Regions from separate parts of the Homo sapiens genome. Here region 1 is linked to region 2. The links come from fine-mapping of genetic effects on gene expression. A gene starts in region 2. The other region holds a variant in brackets. All regions are shown on one strand. Distances are between the middles of the regions.

The links.
Region 1: its variant is fine-mapped to the expression of DERL1 in whole blood (TOPMed, PIP above 0.99).

What each region holds. Positions count from the first base shown.
Region 1 is chr8:123,013,579-123,023,223 of GRCh38, reverse strand. DERL1 (derlin 1) reads left to right here. Exons shown (of 8, transcript NM_024295.6): 5 at 445-540; 6 at 1,725-1,777; 7 at 3,919-4,029; 8 at 7,639-9,645. The coding sequence ends at 7,777. The region is part of intron 1 of LOC124902013 (a long non-coding RNA gene); the gene reads right to left. Among named protein-coding and RNA genes, the nearest start is that of DERL1, 24 kb to the left of the region's middle. The variant G/A (reference allele first, on the strand shown) is at 4,669.
Region 2 is chr8:123,037,329-123,046,973 of GRCh38, reverse strand. DERL1 (derlin 1) reads left to right here and starts at 4,672. Exons shown (of 8, transcript NM_024295.6): 1 at 4,672-5,004. The coding sequence starts at 4,852. It also overlaps the pseudogene RNY4P5. RefSeq lists enhancers at 4,723-5,262, 9,182-9,311.

The DNA.
Region 1 (9,645 bases), 24 kb after region 2:
ACATGAGCTATCTAAATCATTGCTTTCCTTGCTCATTTCTGGCCTCTTTTTGGTGTTTGAACATTGACAATAATGGTTGTCTAGTATTTTCTAGGCATGTGACAACAGTGGTTGTCTAGTATTTTCTAGGCATGTATATGGATGTTTTTTAAAAATTGAGATTATATGGTAATGCTTTGTTGCTTACTTTTTGTAAATAACAGAGCTTGACTCTTACATTTCTGAATCCATCTAAAATAATATAGTTTTGTTGTATTTTATTATAGGATTTTGTAATATTTATTGTATGATAAATAATAGGATCAATTTATAATTCTGATCAGTTGAGTTTCCCTTTACCCAGGTGAGGATTGTTGTGAAGAGGAGGGGTAAAAAGCATAGTAGATGTACACCTTTTTTAAGTGCCTCTGGAGCCTGGTTTTTACATGTCGACTTCTTTTGCAGTTGCTGATGATTCCTCTGATCATGTCAGTACTTTATGTCTGGGCCCAGCTGAACAGAGACATGATTGTATCATTTTGGTTTGGAACACGATTTAAGGTACTTTGCCTTGGTTGGAAAAGTGTCCTTTTCATTTGTCTGCAGAAATCCCTCTTCAGTCCAGAGATGTACTTTCTGACTCATCCAGAAGGGGTCACTGCAGAGCAGTGTACCATAGGCAAGCCCCTTTCTGCCCTCCTCAATCCCAGCTCTATTTAATTAGCCAGCCTGGAGTCCGTTGCTGGCCTTTGTTTCTTCACTCCCTCTGTACCTCGGGCCCCTCAAGGTTATGTCCCTGAGTGATCTTATGTGTCTGTGTTAGAGAGAAGGAGAGATAACTCATGTGAAACCCTGCTTTAAAAATCTGTTCTTATCCCTCCCTCGTTCCCTGTTATTTGCTTTATACTGTAGCTGAAACAGATTGTTTTTGCCCCCAAACACTTCTCTTTGTACATTCTTTCACAATTTTCCACCTGTAACATCTTGATTCTCTTCTTTGTATAAATCCTACCCATTCTTAATTTGAGTTGGAACTGAACATATTTCCTGAATCTCCTGCCTAGAATTAGTCTTACGTTTGGGCTTTTTCAATACTTTGTGTTTCTCTTTAGTACTTAGCACATGTAGCTGTAAAGTTATTTGAGTATAACCCTCTCTTTCCTAGTTTGTGAAGTTTCTTGCAACTCCTTTAGCTCTTGGTATGATGTCTTGGATTTGGTAAGGGGCTCAAATGTTGAGTTCATCTGGAGAGCTTTCTTATTTGGGAGAGTATTAGTTTAAGATATCAATGCATAATGAGATAAAAATTCAGAGGAATTTTGCAAGATATGTAAAAGAAGAACCTAAAAAGATGGGGTATGTTTATTTTATTTGTAGCAATTTGTTGGCTGGAATCTTAGTGTGATTCTCTCATGGGCCTTGCTTTTAGTAGCATCTGTAGGACACTCATCTGCTTTTTGAAGCTGTCTGTTTATAGCAGTTCAGCAGGGCCTGTATTGCATCAGACCTGTGGGCAAAGTACTGTGTCCTTCCAGTTACAAATACACAATTAAGTCTAGTTTTAGATAGGAAGGTTTAAGTATAGTGGGAATAATGCTAGATTGATCCTAGAAATTTTGCAGTGACCTTCCAGAGGATTTATATAAAGCCCTTGTCAGTGTATCCTTACCCACTTTAGTCCCCGTAGTAGCTGTGTCCTCGTCAGGTGTGGCTACTCACATTTGCATATATTCATTCCATCCTAGGCCTGCTATTTACCCTGGGTTATCCTTGGATTCAACTATATCATCGGAGGCTCGTAAGTGATATTAGATTTATTTAATTGGAAACTAATCCTTGGAAAATTTCCATTAGTTTTTATCTTTCTCTAACCTTTATACAACTTTAAAGAATCTCAACATTGACGCATTAGAACCCTATATTTATGGAATAATTTCACTTCGATTGAATTGATTAGATTGCAGGGCTTTAAGCATATTTAACCTTGAATGGTTGTGATTTTGTTAACTTATTGTTACACACAGTATGTTCCTATGTGTATAGTACAGGAATAAATATGTATTTCTGGATTCACTATTCTGATTGGGCAAACAGAGACCTAATTTTTGTCTGAGTTGGCTCCTCTAAGAGCTATGTATAAAATTACTATGTCTTATATTCTTAAGGCATTTCCAGAATGCCTTGGAAACTGCCTATCGGTCATAGAAATCCAGATTCTTAGATAGGATATAATTTTGCAAGTGGTTTGATGATACAGAACTTTTTTTTTTTTTTTTTTGAGACGAAGTTTCACTTTTGTTGCCCAGGCTGGAGTGCAATGGTGCGATCTTGGCTCATTGTAACCTCTGCCTCATGGGTTCAAGCAATTCTCCTACCTCAGCCTCCCGAGTAGCTGGGATTACAGGCGCCCGCCTCCATGCCCGGCTATTTTTTTTTTTTTTTTTTTTTGGGATTTTTAGTAGAGATGGGGTTTTGCCATGTTTGCCAGGCTGGTCTCAAACTCCTGACCTCAAATGATCTGCCTGCCTTGGCCTCCTAAAGTGCTGGGATTTCAGGCATGAGCCACCATGCCTGGATGATAATACAGAACTTTTGGCCAACCAGGGTCAAATATCTAGTCTATTGGTCAGGAATTAGAGCTAGACATAGGAATAGCTTTAATTTATCCAGTCAGAATTTTAAAGGGAGGATACCAAGATGCAACTTCTCTAAGAACTCCCATTTCTTCATTTTTTCTGTTTATTTATTTACTTATTTATTTTTTCAAGATGGGGTCTGGCTCTGTCACCGAGGTTGGAGTGCAGTGGCGTGATCTTGGCTCACTGCAACCTCTGCTTCCCAGGTTCAAGCAATTCTCATGCCTCAGCTTCCCGAGTAGATGGGATTACAGGTGTGCACCACCACACCCAGCTAATTTTTGTATTTTTTGTAGAGATGAGGTTTCGCTGTGTTGCCCAGGCTGGTCTCAAACTTCTGACCTCAAATGATCCGCTCACCTTGGCCTCCCAAAGTGCTGGGATTGCAGGCATGAGCCACTGCACCCAGCCAGAACTCCCATTTCTTATACTACAAACTACTTTTAATATTTCAATCCATTTTTATATTGCTGGTTCTTCATGTGTCTGACATATTTGCTCTGTGTGATCCTAACTTCTTCTGCATATTGCTGGGGAGAAGTGAATGGATGGAGCAGACTGTTTAGAGCAAAGCATGTTCTGAACTTGGCAAAGCTGCTCTTCCACCCAGGAAGGTGAAGTCTGAAGTAGTTGCAGGTGTTGATTTGCCCCTGACGGGAATCATGTTGCAGGTGAAGACAAAGAGGATTTGTAATAGTAACAGTAGATCTATACACTCTTGAGGTGACCTGTATGTAAGCCAAGGGAAAACTGAAGAAGGTCAGCGTTGATTTCAGGGTGCAAGTCGGCTTTCCTAAGTGATCTCTGTGGTGTCTTACACTCAAGGATACAAGAGGCAAGGGAGAAGTGCTTAATGGCTCCAGGAAAGGGGGAACAGGCATTTATTGTTCCTCTTTTCCTTACTCCCACGCTTCTCTCTTGGTAGCCTTCATGTTTGCCCACATTTTATAAATACAATATTCATGACTGAAAGCATTCAGAAGCATGCTTTGCAACTTCCCCAACTCTTGAGGCAGGAAGTAGCAAAAACAATATTTTGAGGATGGGCTGGTGCTTGAAAGAGAGGTCAGAGGGGCTGCTGGCCTTGAAGAGTGGCAGGCCTCATTGGTTCAGCAGGACTGATTTCCCGTCTCCCTCAGAATGCATTTGCCACTCAGACTACAAAAGTGCTCATTGTCAGCTCTCACAGACTCCCAGGGACTAAATGGGCTGCCTTGAAGGCTCTCTTCCTTATGCTATTAGTTAAAACTTGGTGCATCTCTATTGCTTGAATGTCTTTAAACTCATTTGGCTCTCTTTGCAGGGTAATCAATGAGCTTATTGGAAATCTGGTTGGACATCTTTATTTTTTCCTAATGTTCAGATACCCAATGGACTTGGGAGGAAGAAATTTTCTATCCACACCTCAGTTTTTGTAAGTGTTTTTGTCCTGTCTCATCTAACATTTTACTGCCTGTGTTCTTAGTGCATCCTAATGAGAGCTCCATGAGGAGTATGATTTACCCCTATGCCCCATCTGCTGGAGAAACCTGAGGCAACAAGTGACTTACCCTAGTCACACAGTCACAGGAAGTTAGGGATTAAAGCTTAGGCTCAGTTGCCTTCCTGTTACTCTTTTAGCCAGGGACCACTGACAACTAGATTCCAACATTACAGGAGGCATCTCAGCTCTCTGAGCCTGCTGAGGGACCTGATGCAACTCCAGAGTGCGAAACAGTAGGCTGGTGAATGGGCAGAGTCACAGGTTAGTGGGGTGTCTTTTCTTGGCCCATCAGTTTTTACCCATGATTTTGCCCAAGGAAGGGTAAGTTAGCGTGTTGGTCAGCAATTTTAAACATTTTTATATTAAATACTATGGAGTAGACATTTTACAGGACTGTTCAGAGTTAAAATGAGAGACTTGAGGTTTGTATAGGCCCAACCCCCTGGGAGTTTGTGCTCTTTATCTGCTTTTAGGGTTTACTGAAGTGGGCTGGTAAGGGCAACAGCTTTGATTTTTGAGACAAACTTGGATTTGAATCCCAGTCCCCTCAGATAGCAGTTTTTATACTGG[G/A]AAAGTTACTTAATCAAACCTCCAAGCTTCAGTTTGCAAGCCTGTAAATTGTGGGAGAAGCCCCTGTCTCACAGGACTGCATGAGGTAAGATACACTGTTGGGAAGCACAGTAGCGGGTTCTCGGTAAGTAAAGCTAGCTGCCATATTCCTAAAGGTGGGGGTAGGAGAGCAGGATTTTGACGATCTGAGAGGAGACGCGCACACACCCAGAAGCATGTAATAGTCGTGTGACCGTTCTGTCAGTGAGGCAAAAGGCTGTCGAAGAACGGGCCAGTTAAATCACCATCTGGGTGTCACAGCCTGCCTGACAATCATGCCTAATCTCATATCAGGGATATGCAGTAATAGCTTGCATTTGAAAGCTTTAAAAAAACAAACAAACCAAACCCTTCCACATCTTGCTAATTTTAATGTTTTGCAGTTCTGTCATTCCTCTAAGGGATCAGTGAGGGCAGTAAAACTTGAGCAGGCCTCCTCTTTCTCCCCTTCCTTTTATAGGGTAGGGGTATGTTTTTCAAAGACTTTTCAAATTGTGAACTGTAATATACAGAGATATACCATATTGGTGGTTGTGGTGTGTGTGTTTTTCTTTAAGAGAATAAAAAGAAACTTGTTTCTCTTCTGAGCCTTGAATTGCCTTCAGGCTAAAAAAACAAATGACCAATCTGGTTTCTAATTATCAAAGGACATAATAACAGCAGGTTTGGCTTTCTGATCTAGGTTTATCAAGTAGGATGGCAGATGCATCAATTAAAAAAAGCTTGGTGCTTTTGGGGGGCAGCCAACAGTTACTTTACTTTAAATGGCCATATTCTAACTTAACGGCTTGTAGCTACTTCTCAGTTGTGGGCAACACAGGATACAAGATTCTAGTGGCAAAATCAGCGAGCCCTGGAGCCTGCCTTCCACTTGAACTTTCTCTGTTGGGGGAAGTCCTTCTGCTAAATTTTGCATAAAGATCAGATGACAAAATACAGCTCCTTGCAAAAGCAGTAACTGCTTTGAAATTACCATAAATTTTTGTTGATTATGTATAATTGGGTATCTTTTTATACTAATTATTTGCATTTAATTTCACTATCTACTTAAGCAGTGGAGATGGCTTCCATATTGTCTTAGAGTGAGTAGCAAAGCAAGACAGCCCTAGCATTTTCTCCAGCAAGTGTTCTATTTTATTATGTACTTTGGAGGAATATTATTGTACCAGAAGGCATGGATGTTGAGAAACCAGCACTTGGAAAATACATTTTGATTTAATGGTAAAGCTGTATTTGTTTAAAATGGAGGAGGTGAGTATAGGAAGGTATAACTGCTTTTCTAAATGGAATGCTGATACATTTGTATCACCATTTTCCATTCCATTTAGAGTAGTTATATCTTCTCTGTACACACTAAATTTTGTGTTTAAAAGGGGTTTTTGGCCAGGCGTGGTTGCTCACGTCGGTAATCCCAGCATTTTGGGAGGCCGACGGGTGGATCACGAGGTCAGGAGATCGAGACCATCCTGGCTAACATGGTGAAACCCTGGCTCCACTAAAAATACAAAAATTAGCTGGACATGGTAGCGGGCGCCTGTTGTCCCAGCTACTCGGGAGGCTGAGGCAGGAGAATTGCTTGAACCCGGGAGGTGGAGGTTGCAGTGAGCTGAGATCATGCTACTGCACTCCAGCCTGGTGACAGAGTGAGACTCCGTCTCAAAAAAAAACAAAAAAACAAAAACCCGAGTTGTTGTCTGTTTTGGGAAGAGGCATGAAGGTATCGAGTATGATGTAAACAGACTCCAGTCACTGACTGCTGTCCCTTCCCAGGCAGGATGCATGTAGTATAACAAGTAGTGCAGGGCGCAGGCTCTGGAACCAGGCTGACTAGGTTGGAATCCTGTCACTTTCGAAGCGCTTCACTCAGTGTTGGCTCAATTTTCTTGTTTATAAAACAGGAGTAATAGTAATGCCTACCTCATGGGGTTATTGTGAAGATCAGATGAATTTATAAGCAGGCAGCACCTAGTGTAAGGCAATAATCACTGAGTAAATTCACATAGTAACTGCTCTAGTATAAGGTCAAGTATAAAGCCTGTCCTCTTCAGGGTTTCTGCTGTGGACAAGTCACCTGTCATGACTTACTCTTGCTGCCAAGAAGGGTTTAAGCGGAGGTATCAGATCATGCTCTCTGCCTTCAAGCAAAATTTTAAACATTAGGATCTGCTAAGTGGAATAGGTTTAAACACATTCTCAGTTTACTAATAAAAGAGTCAAAGATGGGAAATAGTTGGAAAATACTATTGAGAGTGTAGGCTTGGGTTTAAGTTCTCTTAGCTGTTCTGTGAACTCTTAGTTTATTAATTTTAAGGTGGGAAATCATCTAACCGTCTGGGGCCCCAGCTCTCCCACCATCTGTGAGAAGGGAAGAATGTACCTGGAAGGCAGATTCTGAATAAATTTTAAAACATACCCATACTTCCAACATAGAAAGCCTTCTTCCCCTGTCTCCTTTGATGGGCTCAGCTGAGAGCCTTTTAGAAATGCTGTGCAAGGCTCAAACATGCAGGCTGTGGATTTGGCCTTTGAAAGTGAATGTATTTTGTATCCTTTGATCCAGTTTGAGCCATATTTAGATATACCAAGATGCTATCAGTCATTCTTTGGTTGCTGGGCTTGTGGGTGTAATATTTTTGTTTCCATACTGTTCTGCATGGATTACTTTTATAAGCAGAGAAAAAAACGTTCAGAGTGTGAATTTAGCTGAAATCTGAATACATTTAAGAAACATGAAAAACGAATGCCGTCTGTGGTCAGGTCATGGGGCTGAGTACAGAAAAGACAAAGTTAAATAAGACGTCCCTCGCTGCCTTCAACATGACAAGTGCCATGGGAACAGCAGGAGAGGGAGGTGTTCTCGGAGGTCAGATAACTATGTGGAAGTGACTTTGTTCTCTTCTCTCCGTTTGTGTCCCCGTCTTTCTGCACCAGGTACCGCTGGCTGCCCAGTAGGAGAGGAGGAGTATCAGGATTTGGTGTGCCCCCTGCTAGCATGAGGCGAGCTGCTGATCAGAATGGCGGAGGCGGGAGACACAACTGGGGCCAGGGCTTTCGACTTGGAGACCAGTGAAGGGGCGGCCTCGGGCAGCCGCTCCTCTCAAGCCACATTTCCTCCCAGTGCTGGGTGCACTTAACAACTGCGTTCTGGCTAACACTGTTGGACCTGACCCACACTGAATGTAGTCTTTCAGTACGAGACAAAGTTTCTTAAATCCCGAAGAAAAATATAAGTGTTCCACAAGTTTCACGATTCTCATTCAAGTCCTTACTGCTGTGAAGAACAAATACCAACTGTGCAAATTGCAAAACTGACTACATTTTTTGGTGTCTTCTCTTCTCCCCTTTCCGTCTGAATAATGGGTTTTAGCGGGTCCTAGTCTGCTGGCATTGAGCTGGGGCTGGGTCACCAAACCCTTCCCAAAAGGACCCTTATCTCTTTCTTGCACACATGCCTCTCTCCCACTTTTCCCAACCCCCACATTTGCAACTAGAAGAGGTTGCCCATAAAATTGCTCTGCCCTTGACAGGTTCTGTTATTTATTGACTTTTGCCAAGGCTTGGTCACAACAATCATATTCACGTAATTTTCCCCCTTTGGTGGCAGAACTGTAGCAATAGGGGGAGAAGACAAGCAGCGGATGAAGCGTTTTCTCAGCTTTTGGAATTGCTTCGACCTGACATCCGTTGTAACCGTTTGCCACTTCTTCAGATATTTTTATAAAAAAGTACCACTGAGTCAGTGAGGGCCACAGATTGGTATTAATGAGATACGAGGGTTGTTGCTGGGTGTTTGTTTCCTGAGCTAAGTGATCAAGACTGTAGTGGAGTTGCAGCTAACATGGGTTAGGTTTAAACCATGGGGGATGCAACCCCTTTGCGTTTCATATGTAGGCCTACTGGCTTTGTGTAGCTGGAGTAGTTGGGTTGCTTTGTGTTAGGAGGATCCAGATCATGTTGGCTACAGGGAGATGCTCTCTTTGAGAGGCTCCTGGGCATTGATTCCATTTCAATCTCATTCTGGATATGTGTTCATTGAGTAAAGGAGGAGAGACCCTCATACGCTATTTAAATGTCACTTTTTTGCCTATCCCCCGTTTTTTGGTCATGTTTCAATTAATTGTGAGGAAGGCGCAGCTCCTCTCTGCACGTAGATCATTTTTTAAAGCTAATGTAAGCACATCTAAGGGAATAACATGATTTAAGGTTGAAATGGCTTTAGAATCATTTGGGTTTGAGGGTGTGTTATTTTGAGTCATGAATGTACAAGCTCTGTGAATCAGACCAGCTTAAATACCCACACCTTTTTTTCGTAGGTGGGCTTTTCCTATCAGAGCTTGGCTCATAACCAAATAAAGTTTTTTGAAGGCCATGGCTTTTCACACAGTTATTTTATTTTATGACGTTATCTGAAAGCAGACTGTTAGGAGCAGTATTGAGTGGCTGTCACACTTTGAGGCAACTAAAAAGGCTTCAAACGTTTTGATCAGTTTCTTTTCAGGAAACATTGTGCTCTAACAGTATGACTATTCTTTCCCCCACTCTTAAACAGTGTGATGTGTGTTATCCTAGGAAATGAGAGTTGGCAAACAACTTCTCATTTTGAATAGAGTTTGTGTGTACCTCTCCATATTTAATTTATATGATAAAATAGGTGGGGAGAGTCTGAACCTTAACTGTCATGTTTTGTTGTTCATCTGTGGCCACAATAAAGTTTACTTGTAAAATTTTAGAGGCCATTACTCCAATTATGTTGCACGTACACTCATTGTACAGGCGTGGAGACTCATTGTATGTATAAGAATATTCTGACAGTGAGTGACCCGGAGTCTCTGGTGTACCCTCTTACCAGTCAGCTGCCTGCGAGCAGTCATTTTTTCCTAAAGGTTTACAAGTATTTAGAACTCTTCAGTTCAGGGCAAAATGTTCATGAAGTTATTC
Region 2 (9,645 bases):
AAAATTATGAATACAGGGCTGGGCATGGTGGCTTATGTTTGTAACCCCAGTACTTTGGGAGGCCGAGGGGGGGAGGTCACTTGAGGTCAGGAGTTCGAGAGCAGCCTGGTCAACATGGTGAAACCCATCTCTACTAAAAATATAAAAATTAGCTGGGCATGGTTGCAGGTGCCTGTAATCGTAGCTACTTGGGAGACTGAAGCACGCGCGTCGCTTGAACCCAGAAGGCAGAAGTTGCAGTGAGCCGAGATCACACCACTGCATGCCAGCCTGGGCAACCTGGGCAAGAGAGTGAAAACTCTGTCTCAAAAAAAAAAAAAATTTACAAAGTTTTGCACAGAGCCTTGGAAAGGCCTGTGCAAGTGAGGGGTCCTGTAGCCTAAGTTTGATTAGGTTCACAATCACACCACCTCTGGGAGGAAAAGTCATTGAGCTGTTAATATCTTTTTATTTTAAATCCTACTCCTGGAAATCAGTTCAACAAAAGGATCGAGAGGCAGTGTGGCCTAGTGGGTAAGAACAGTAAAATACAAGGTCCTTTCCATAACCTACAGTGTCCTCCATGATTCCAGTGACTCTCTCCTTCCTTTGTCTCTTGACCCTCCATCCCCACTCTCGCTCCACTCAGCCACATGGGTCTTCGTGTTTAAGGTCTCCATGCCAGCCACATTCCCACCTCAAGGTCTTTGCCATTCCTTCTATCTGAACTGTTCTTCCTCCAGATCTCCACACTGCTTGCTCTTTCACCACCCTGAGACGTGTACTCAATATCTTCTGAGTTTGCAGTGAGGCCTTCCCTCACCAGCCCAAATCTCCTTTTCTTCTTTTTTCTTTTCCTATTCCTATTGCCAGTTTACCTACTGTACATGTTACTTTTTTTTTTTTTTTTTTTGAGAGGAGTTTCGCTCTTGTTGCCCAGGCTGGAGTGCAATGGCGCAATCTCAGCTCACTGCAAACTTCACCTCCCGAGTTCAAGTGATTCTCCTGCCTCAGCCTCCTGAGTAGCTGGGATTACAGGCGCATGCCACCATGCCCGGTTAATTTTTGTATTTTCAGTAGAGACGGGGTTTCCCCATGTTGGCCAGGCTGGTCTCGAACTCCTGACCTCAGGTGATCTGCCCACCTTGGCCTCCCAAAAGTGCTGGGATCACAGGCGTGAGCCACCGCGCCCAGCCTGTACATCTTACTTTTATCTCTTTCTGTTGTCTTTCTGCCTCCTCTAGAATGTAAGTTCCAAGAGGGTGGAGATAATTGTCAGTTTAGTTCACTGTTTAGAACTGTTATTGGTATATAACAAGCACTGGACAAAAGCATTGCTGAATAAATGAATGAAAGAGCACCACCTTTGGGCTGGGCGTGGTGGCTCATGCCTGTAGTCCCAGCGCTTTGGGAGGCCGAGGTGTGTGGATCACTTGAGGCCAGGGGTTTGGAACCAGCCTGGCCAACATAGCGAAACCCTGTCTCTACTAAAAATACAAAAAAGTAGCCAGGCATGGTGGTGGACACCTGTAATTCTGGCTACTTGGCAGGCTGAGGCAGGAGGATTGCTTGAACCCAGGAGGCGGAGTTTGCAGTGAGCCGAGATTGCGCCACTGGCACTCCAGCCTGGGTGACAGAAGCGAGAGGGAGACGCTGTCTCAAGAAAAAAAAAGAAAAAAAAAAGCACCACCTTTGGCTTTAAATAGATCTGGGTTGAAGTTTTATATATGCACCTGCCGGCAAGTGCCAAGTTACTTAACTTCTCTAAGGCTGTTTCTTCATTTGTAAATGGAAATAAAAGTACTTCATAGGGTTGAAGCATTGTTGTAAAGACTAATTAAAACCATGCCCATAAAGGGCATAGCTGAGTGCCAATCAAACTGTAGACACTCAGCAAATGTTAGATATTAGTAAATAAAAAAGTTAGCTATTAGTATAAAATGTATATGCATAAAGGTATTCATTATAGAACTATATATAGTATTTAAAAACAGGTATCAGAAATAGGAAAATGGTCAAAAGATTCTGCCACATCACTAGTAGAATATTAGTCATTAAAATGATTATTAAGACTTTGTAGAAAGAGAAAGCCTTTAAAAAATAATTATTTAAATAATATTATTAATAAATTAATAATAAATTTAATAAATATTCAATATTATTTAAAAATAATAAATATTTTTAAAAGCCAGTCAAATTTAGCAGTGGGGGGTTGTATACCAACTTTAGTGACACTAATGTTAATAAGTTCTGATAAATCACTACCATCGGACCAGCCAGAAAGCCTTTGAATGTAAAGTTACAAGAAAAGACCAGACATACCTGGCCTACCGTTGCTCTGATTTAAACTTCAGTGTTTCTAAAGGCCGAAGTTGAATTCCAGAGCATTCACTATGAATTCTAGAGCACAACTTAGAAATAAACACTGCCAGGCCGGGCGCGGTGGCTCACGCCTGTAATCCCAGCACTTTGTGAGGCCGAGGCGGGCAGATCATGAGGTCAGGAGATTGAGACCATCTTGGCTAACACGGTGAAACCCCGTCTCTACTAAAAATACAAAAAATTAGCCGGGCGTGCTGGCGGACGCCTGTAGTCTCAGCTACTCGGGAGGCTGTGGCAGCAGAATCGCTTGAACCCGGGAGGCGGAGCTTGCAGTGAGCCGAGATCCCGCCACTGCACTCCAGCCTGGGCGACAGAGCAAGACTCCGTCTCAAAAAAAAAAAAAAAAAAGAAATAAACACTGCCAGATATTGGGTGTACATTTTTCTTGTTCTTGTCTTTTCTCATGCACGTGTACTTTTAAGTTTATCAGAGAAACTTTCCTTAGCCCTCCACCTAAGCCAGATAACCCCTGTTTTCTTTCACTGTACCTTGGTTATGAGTAGTGGGTACAAAACAATGGTGGTGGTAGTAGAGGGAAATAAACAGAATAAACCTCAGGCAATATCGTCAAGTATTATCTGTTATTTATATAAATATCTAGCTTTTATATCAAAATTATCTTTTTGTAAGGCTGTATCAATTTATATTCCCACCAGCTGTGTTCTTCGTAGATTTGCTATCCATTGGTTCCCAAATGTTGTATACTCTCATTACACTGTGGAATATTTAATGCCTTTTTGTTATGAAAAAACTGTTTTTATTAATTAACATCAAGGATATGGTGCTGACAAATATTCTCTAAAATTATGGAATGTTGGAAACTCTGCTGTCTGACATCCTTTCCGTGTGAATGGAACATCCCATTCTTGTCCAGAGCATCTGAGCCATACAGGTCACTTTGACACAGGATTTTCAATACAGGTACAAAGCTTTAGATAGAGTTTTCAGACCCAACGTTTCACATTTGTCGTAATTTTGAGATTTCCAAGGAAAGAGCCTGCTTCCTACTCAGGTCTGATGTTAACCTGATGCTGCACACAGCTCTGCTTTGCTTCGAGTCTATCAAACACTGCTCCAGTTAATTCTTACCAAAAAATCCCCCCATTCCCATAACCCAATAATGACACTTCCGTTTGATGAGAGGCATTGAGGTTCCTCTGGAGTGCAGTCTCCCTTGCTGCAGCAAGTTAATAAATCTAACTTTGTTGACTACAGGTTTGTTCCTGGTGCTCTTTATTGGAAGACTTTAGCAATCTTAAACTGCTGGCCCCAAATCCCAAAACAACGGGAAACTCTACTCAGTATCTTTTCTTTTTTTCTTTTTTTTGAGATGGAGTCTGGCTCTTGTCCCCCAGGCTGGAGTGCAATGGTGCAATCTCGGCTCGCTGTAACCTCCACCTCCCGGGTTCAAGCGATTCTCCTGCCTCAGCCTCCCAAGTAGCTGGGACTACAGGCGCCCTCCACCATGCCCGGCTAATTTTTGTATTTTTAGTAGAGACGGGGTTTCATCATGTTGGCCAGGCTGGTCTCGAACTCCTGACCTCGTGATCCGCCCGCCTCGGCCTCCCAAAGTGCTGGGATTACAGGCGTGAGCCACCGCGCCTGGCCAGTATCTTTTCTTAAAGATTCCTTCTTATACAAGTTGAATTAGACAAGATGGATCATTTTGGCTTTTAGTTCCTCCAACATTCCAACCTAGTTAGAGCGGCTTTTCTCTGTGCATGGAAAATTCTTCCCCCAGATCTCTTGCCTGGCTGGCCCAGTTCATACCTAAGGTAGCCATCTGTCCTCACACTGCCGCACCCCCACCCCGTCACTCCACCTCATCATCTCATTTCATTTTCCTATTTTTCTAATCACTCTCTGAGATTATCTTACTTCATTATCTATTTGTTTATAAATTATCCCAATGAGGATGTTAAGATCAGGAGAGAGGGTACCACGACAGCGCTGACAGCCGCAGCTGCCCAGTGTCTAGAACTGTGCCCAACAAACACTTGTGGAATGAGTAAGCAGACGAGGAACTAGACACTTCGTTTGCCTTCGTCCCCTTTAAATACCCTCCAGGTGGACCCAGCCGCATTAAAACTCTGAGAACTAGGTGAATGGCATTTGGCCTCGCCACTGGCCGGAGCGTTTGCCGTTGATCCAGGCAACCACTGTTTTCCCACCAGTCGTGTAGTCGCTCTACCTGGCTCCGCCCCCCAGGACGCCGAGCCTCGGCCGGGCGGTAAAATCGGCGCTTACCCTTTAAGCGGCGGGACTTCTGGTCACGTCGTCCGCGGTCGCCGGAAGGGGAAGTTTCGCCTCAGAAGGCTGCCTCGCTGGTCCGAATTCGGTGGCGCCACGTCCGCCCGTCTCCGCCTTCTGCATCGCGGCTTCGGCGGCTTCCACCTAGACACCTAACAGTCGCGGAGCCGGCCGCGTCGTGAGGGGGTCGGCACGGGGAGTCGGGCGGTCTTGTGCATCTTGGCTACCTGTGGGTCGAAGATGTCGGACATCGGAGACTGGTTCAGGAGCATCCCGGCGATCACGCGCTATTGGTTCGCCGCCACCGTCGCCGTGCCCTTGGTCGGCAAACTCGGCCTCATCAGCCCGGCCTACCTCTTCCTCTGGCCCGAAGCCTTCCTTTATCGCTTTCAGGTACTTACCGGAGACGGGGGGCGTGGAGACTACAGGCCCCAGGAGGCCCAGCGGCGGCTAAGCGTAGGCTGGCATGTTGCGGGCGCGCGGTGCCTGCTGGGATTTGTAGTGGGTCCGGCGCCGGCGGTTTAGGGCGGGGTCCTTTGGGCCCGGGGAGGCTCTGGGATCTGGAGCGGGGTGCTGGATAGCTGGAGTTGTGGGCTGGCCTGGTGGGGAGGGGTTGACTTCACTGGTATAGTGAGATTGTGCTTCCCGCTCTTCGCACTCAGTGAAGGAAGCAGTGAGATTAGTCGTTGGTAGTTGTCAATCTGTTGGACGCTGGCGATTAGGTCCGCCTGGAGCATTGCCCTCTGACCTCCCTCTGTCACCCACGTGGGTGGCCTGTAGGTGTCAACTTCACCAACTTATAGCTGAGTTCCTTTCACGTTTATGGAGTTTTTTTGTTTTGGTTTTCCTATAGGAGTGATTTAAAGTCAGAGATACAAAGAACGAGTGTATTGTTCTGCATTTCCCTCTAGACCTAATTTAGTGTCCCCCACGTAGTAATAGAATGTACGAAGGAATGGGCAAAGAGTACATTTGTCCAGAAATGGAAGGCCTTGTTATTTTCTTAAGCATGAAGGAAACAGTCCAGAGTAACATTTCTGTCAAGAGAGTGCCAGTTTTCTGAAGGTTATCTGTATTCACCAATTTCTGATTTAAAACTTCAATCAGTGGCAGGTCAGATAGCAAGATCTGGCATTAATTTCAGCCCTTTACTTGGCCTATGGATAACATTTTCTTGTCTTTCCCTGTCTTCACTGGGTGTTACTTCTTGGTTTCCTTTGCTGGTTCCTTATCTTCCTGACTTTTAAATGTTAGGATGTGCCTTGGGAATCAGTTATAGGACCTTTTCTATAGACTCTCCCTAGCTTTAGGTGGTCTCATTCATTCAGCCTCAGGGCTTTACATACTTTCTATAAACTGGAGATTCTGAAATATAAATATAAATATCTTCAGTCCAGATCTGTCTCCCTATTTCCAGATTTGTGCATCCAGCAGTTACTTGAAATCACGACTTGGATGACTAAGAGTCATCTTCATCTTAACGTGTCCAAAACTGAATCCCCTTTCCCCCTTTGCCTTAGAAGTGAATAGCAACTCCGTTATTAGAGGAGCTGAAGTTAATTGTCGGAGTCATCTTTTATTTTTCTTGTTTTTCTCACACCCCACAATCTGTCAGCAAATCCTATTGACTCTACTTGAGACATATATCCAGAATACAATCCCTTTTCATTCTCCATTGCAAGCCATTATCACTGCAATCTGGTTCCTTTCCATCTTTTCTCTAGACAGCTAGAGTGATCCTTTTAAAACCTACATCAAGTCCTGTCTTTCCTCTGTCCAGAATCCTACCATGTCTTCTTAATGAGTAAAATCCAAGTCCTTTCAGTGGCCTGCAAGGCCCCTGCTGCTTCTCTGACCTCATCTCCTACTACTCTCCAACTTGTACCTTAGGCTCCACAATGAGATCCTTGCTGTTACTTCAGTGCTTATCTGGATCTCTCCTCAGGGCCTTTGCACATGTTGTTTCTCTGCCTGAGGAAGATAACCGTGGCTCAGTTGTTTACCTCCTAACCTTCTTCAGATCTCTGCCCAAATGCCGTCTTGTTGACAAGGCCTTCTCTGATGGCCGTACATAAAATAGCCCGTCCTTCACTCCACTCCCTTATCCCTTATCCTTCATTTTTCTTTCTTTCTTTCTTTTTTTTGGAGACGGAGTCTCGCTCTGTTGCCCAGGCTGGAGTGTATATGGCGCAATCTTGGTTCACTGCAACCTCTGTCTCCTGGGTTCAAGCAGTTCTCCTGTCTCAGCCTCCCAAGTAGCTGGAATTACAGGTGCACACCACCATGCCCAGCTAATTTTTGTATTTTAGTAGAGACGGGGTTTCGCCATGTTGGCCAGACTGGTCTTGAACTCCTGACCTCAGGTGATCCACCCGCCTCAGCCTCCCAAAGTGCTGGGATTAGAGGCGTGAGCCACTGAGCCTGGCCTTATCCTTCATTTTTCTTGCTACATATTACCCTTTGGTATTTATTAGTCTGCTTCCCCTCAGAGAATAAGGCTCCATGAGAGCCGTTCACCACTGTCCTTGTTACCTGGAATAGTGCCTGGGACGTAGTAGGTGCTTATATATTAACTGAGTTGTTGGAAGTAATTGGGCACTTGCTGTGTGCTGGGCACTGGGGTACAATAGTAAATAGGACTGAAAAGGTTTCAGAGCCTGTGAAGACATAGAGGCACGTGTTTTAAGGGGTGTAATATTTGATAGGGTGTTCCACCCAGAAAGGCCTCAGAGAAGACATTTGAAGAAATTGGAATACTGAGGAGCCAGCCAGCCAGCTTTGGGTAGATCTGGCTCTGGAGACAACCTTCCAGGAAGGACTAGTAAGTGAAAGGCTCAGAAGTAGGAGCTGGGAACAGGAAGAAGACTGGGTTGCCAGCTGGCACAGGGTCAGCTGTAGGGTGAGGATTAGTAGATGACAGCAGGGAGATAGCCAGGGCTGGGTGTAGTAAAGCTAAGATGGAAAGGTGGGTTAAAGCTAGATCATAGTTGAGCCTTGTAGGTCATGTTAAGAGGTTTGAACTTTATTTTGAGGGCACTATGAAGTCTTTGGAGCCTTGTGAACAAAGGACTGACAGATTGCCCCGACTATTCTGTGGAGTGGACTTTGTGTGTGTATGGAGGGGGTTGAAGGAGGAAGGGCTAGGTGATGAGATCAGAGAGATGAATCCAGTTAGGAGGCCAGAGAGATGGTGGTTTGGATCAGTGTGGCTGTGAAGATAGAGAAAAGGGCATAGACTTGGCAGAGGGGACGAGATTACAGCCGAATGGATATAAAGAGTGAATGGGTGAAGCGAGCAGGACTGAAAGATACTACTGTTTTCACAGGAGCAGCTGAGTGGATGGCGGAGCCCTTGACTGAGATGGGGAATGGTCAGGGATACCTGGGTTGGGAGTGGGGGCTGGTATGGATGAAGAGTTAGGTTTTGGCTGTGCTAAGTCTTGAGATGCTTTTCAGGCATCCATGTGGCGAGGCCAAGGGAGCAGTTGGATATAAAAACATGACTCTGGAGTGCAGCTGGAATTGCATACTGTTCTGTGTTTATTACTTTACTAAATATTTGTTGGCTGAGAGAATGTTGTGTACTTTGTCCCTGGTGGCTTGTTGGGTAATGTGTGGTCATGGGGAGCAATGGTGGCATATTAATGTGTGAGAAGGACCTGGTCAAAACCGGCTTGTTGTCCCTGTTAGCAAAATCCTCACTTGTGTAGTGACACTAGTGACTACACGATGTAAATAAGCACATTGTAAAGAAGCAATGTAAATAAGCCTAACAGGCTGCGGGTGTATAAGGTTAAAAGTGGTGAACTGATTAAAAAGAGTAATCGTTCTTGTCACATCTTCCACAATTTTGTCATCTTCCCTGTATTATTTCTTCTCAGCTGCCAGCAGGAGGCAGGACAGTGTACTGCCCAGGTGTGAAAAGACCAACAGCTGTACCTTGTCTTTTCTTCCTGTTACTCTGATTCTTGCCTATTTTGGACACATGTAACTTTCAGACCCACCTGGAGGAACTCATTTGCAAATGAAGCAGTCAAGGAAAAACTGCATTTGAGAGGCTGCTGTGCACGGACAGTGTGCGGTGTGCTTTAGCAGAGTTCTGCTAGAAAGTTCCTTTTTTCCTTAGAAGCTGAATCTTTCACAACTTACAAAAATGGGGGAGTGATTGATTTAGAATTGTGTGCTCATGTTGGAAGTGACAAGTTATTTTTCCTCCTCAGCTCTAGATTCTTGTGTGTAGCTTGTTGGTTTAGAACGCTGAGGTTTATAATGTTATTTCTTTAGTTTGGATAGGTTGAAACAGGTGTGTGTTAAGACTCATTATACTGTTGTCTACGATTTCTCCCTATTCTGAGTCCCTCAGATTTATGTTCATCAATCAAATAGTTCACAATAATGAAATGTCTTCATATTAATCGTTGATTAACTACACAAGAGGTGGCAATTCCTGCTGCCTTTGTGTTTTCTAAGGTTATGTCTCCCAGGGCCGCCTGCATGGCTATATTTCTTCATTTCTTTGGACAAAATAACATCACCCTGTTACAACTTCCCTGAGGTCATGTCACTGAACTCTGACAGTCATCCTGAGATAAGTGTTACCCCCATTTTGTAGACAGCTTCAGTTTCAGTTTCTATTTCGTTGAGTCAAGGATAGTTCTAAGCTGTTTTGTTTAACTCCTTTGCATAATATCTACGAAAAAAATAAGTATGTAGCAAAACATTTTTGAAGGTGATTTCTTCCAAATCAATCATAGCAAATTGTTTTTCCTTTTCTATTCGAGTAGAAAGGCTGTTAGATTTCAAGTAGTTGAATCATGGTCTCAAGGCCTGGCTCAGTCCCCTGCTAGTTGTGTACCCTTAGGCAAGTTATTTATCCTGTCTGAGCCTCAATTTCTTTAGGATCTGAGGATAATATCATAGCATATTAACTTTGTTCTAAGACTCCATTGATTATACGATGCACCATCAATTTAATGCAACTTTTTTGGGGGACAGGGGAGTAGAAATTACATTCAACGAGTGTATTGATTGTAA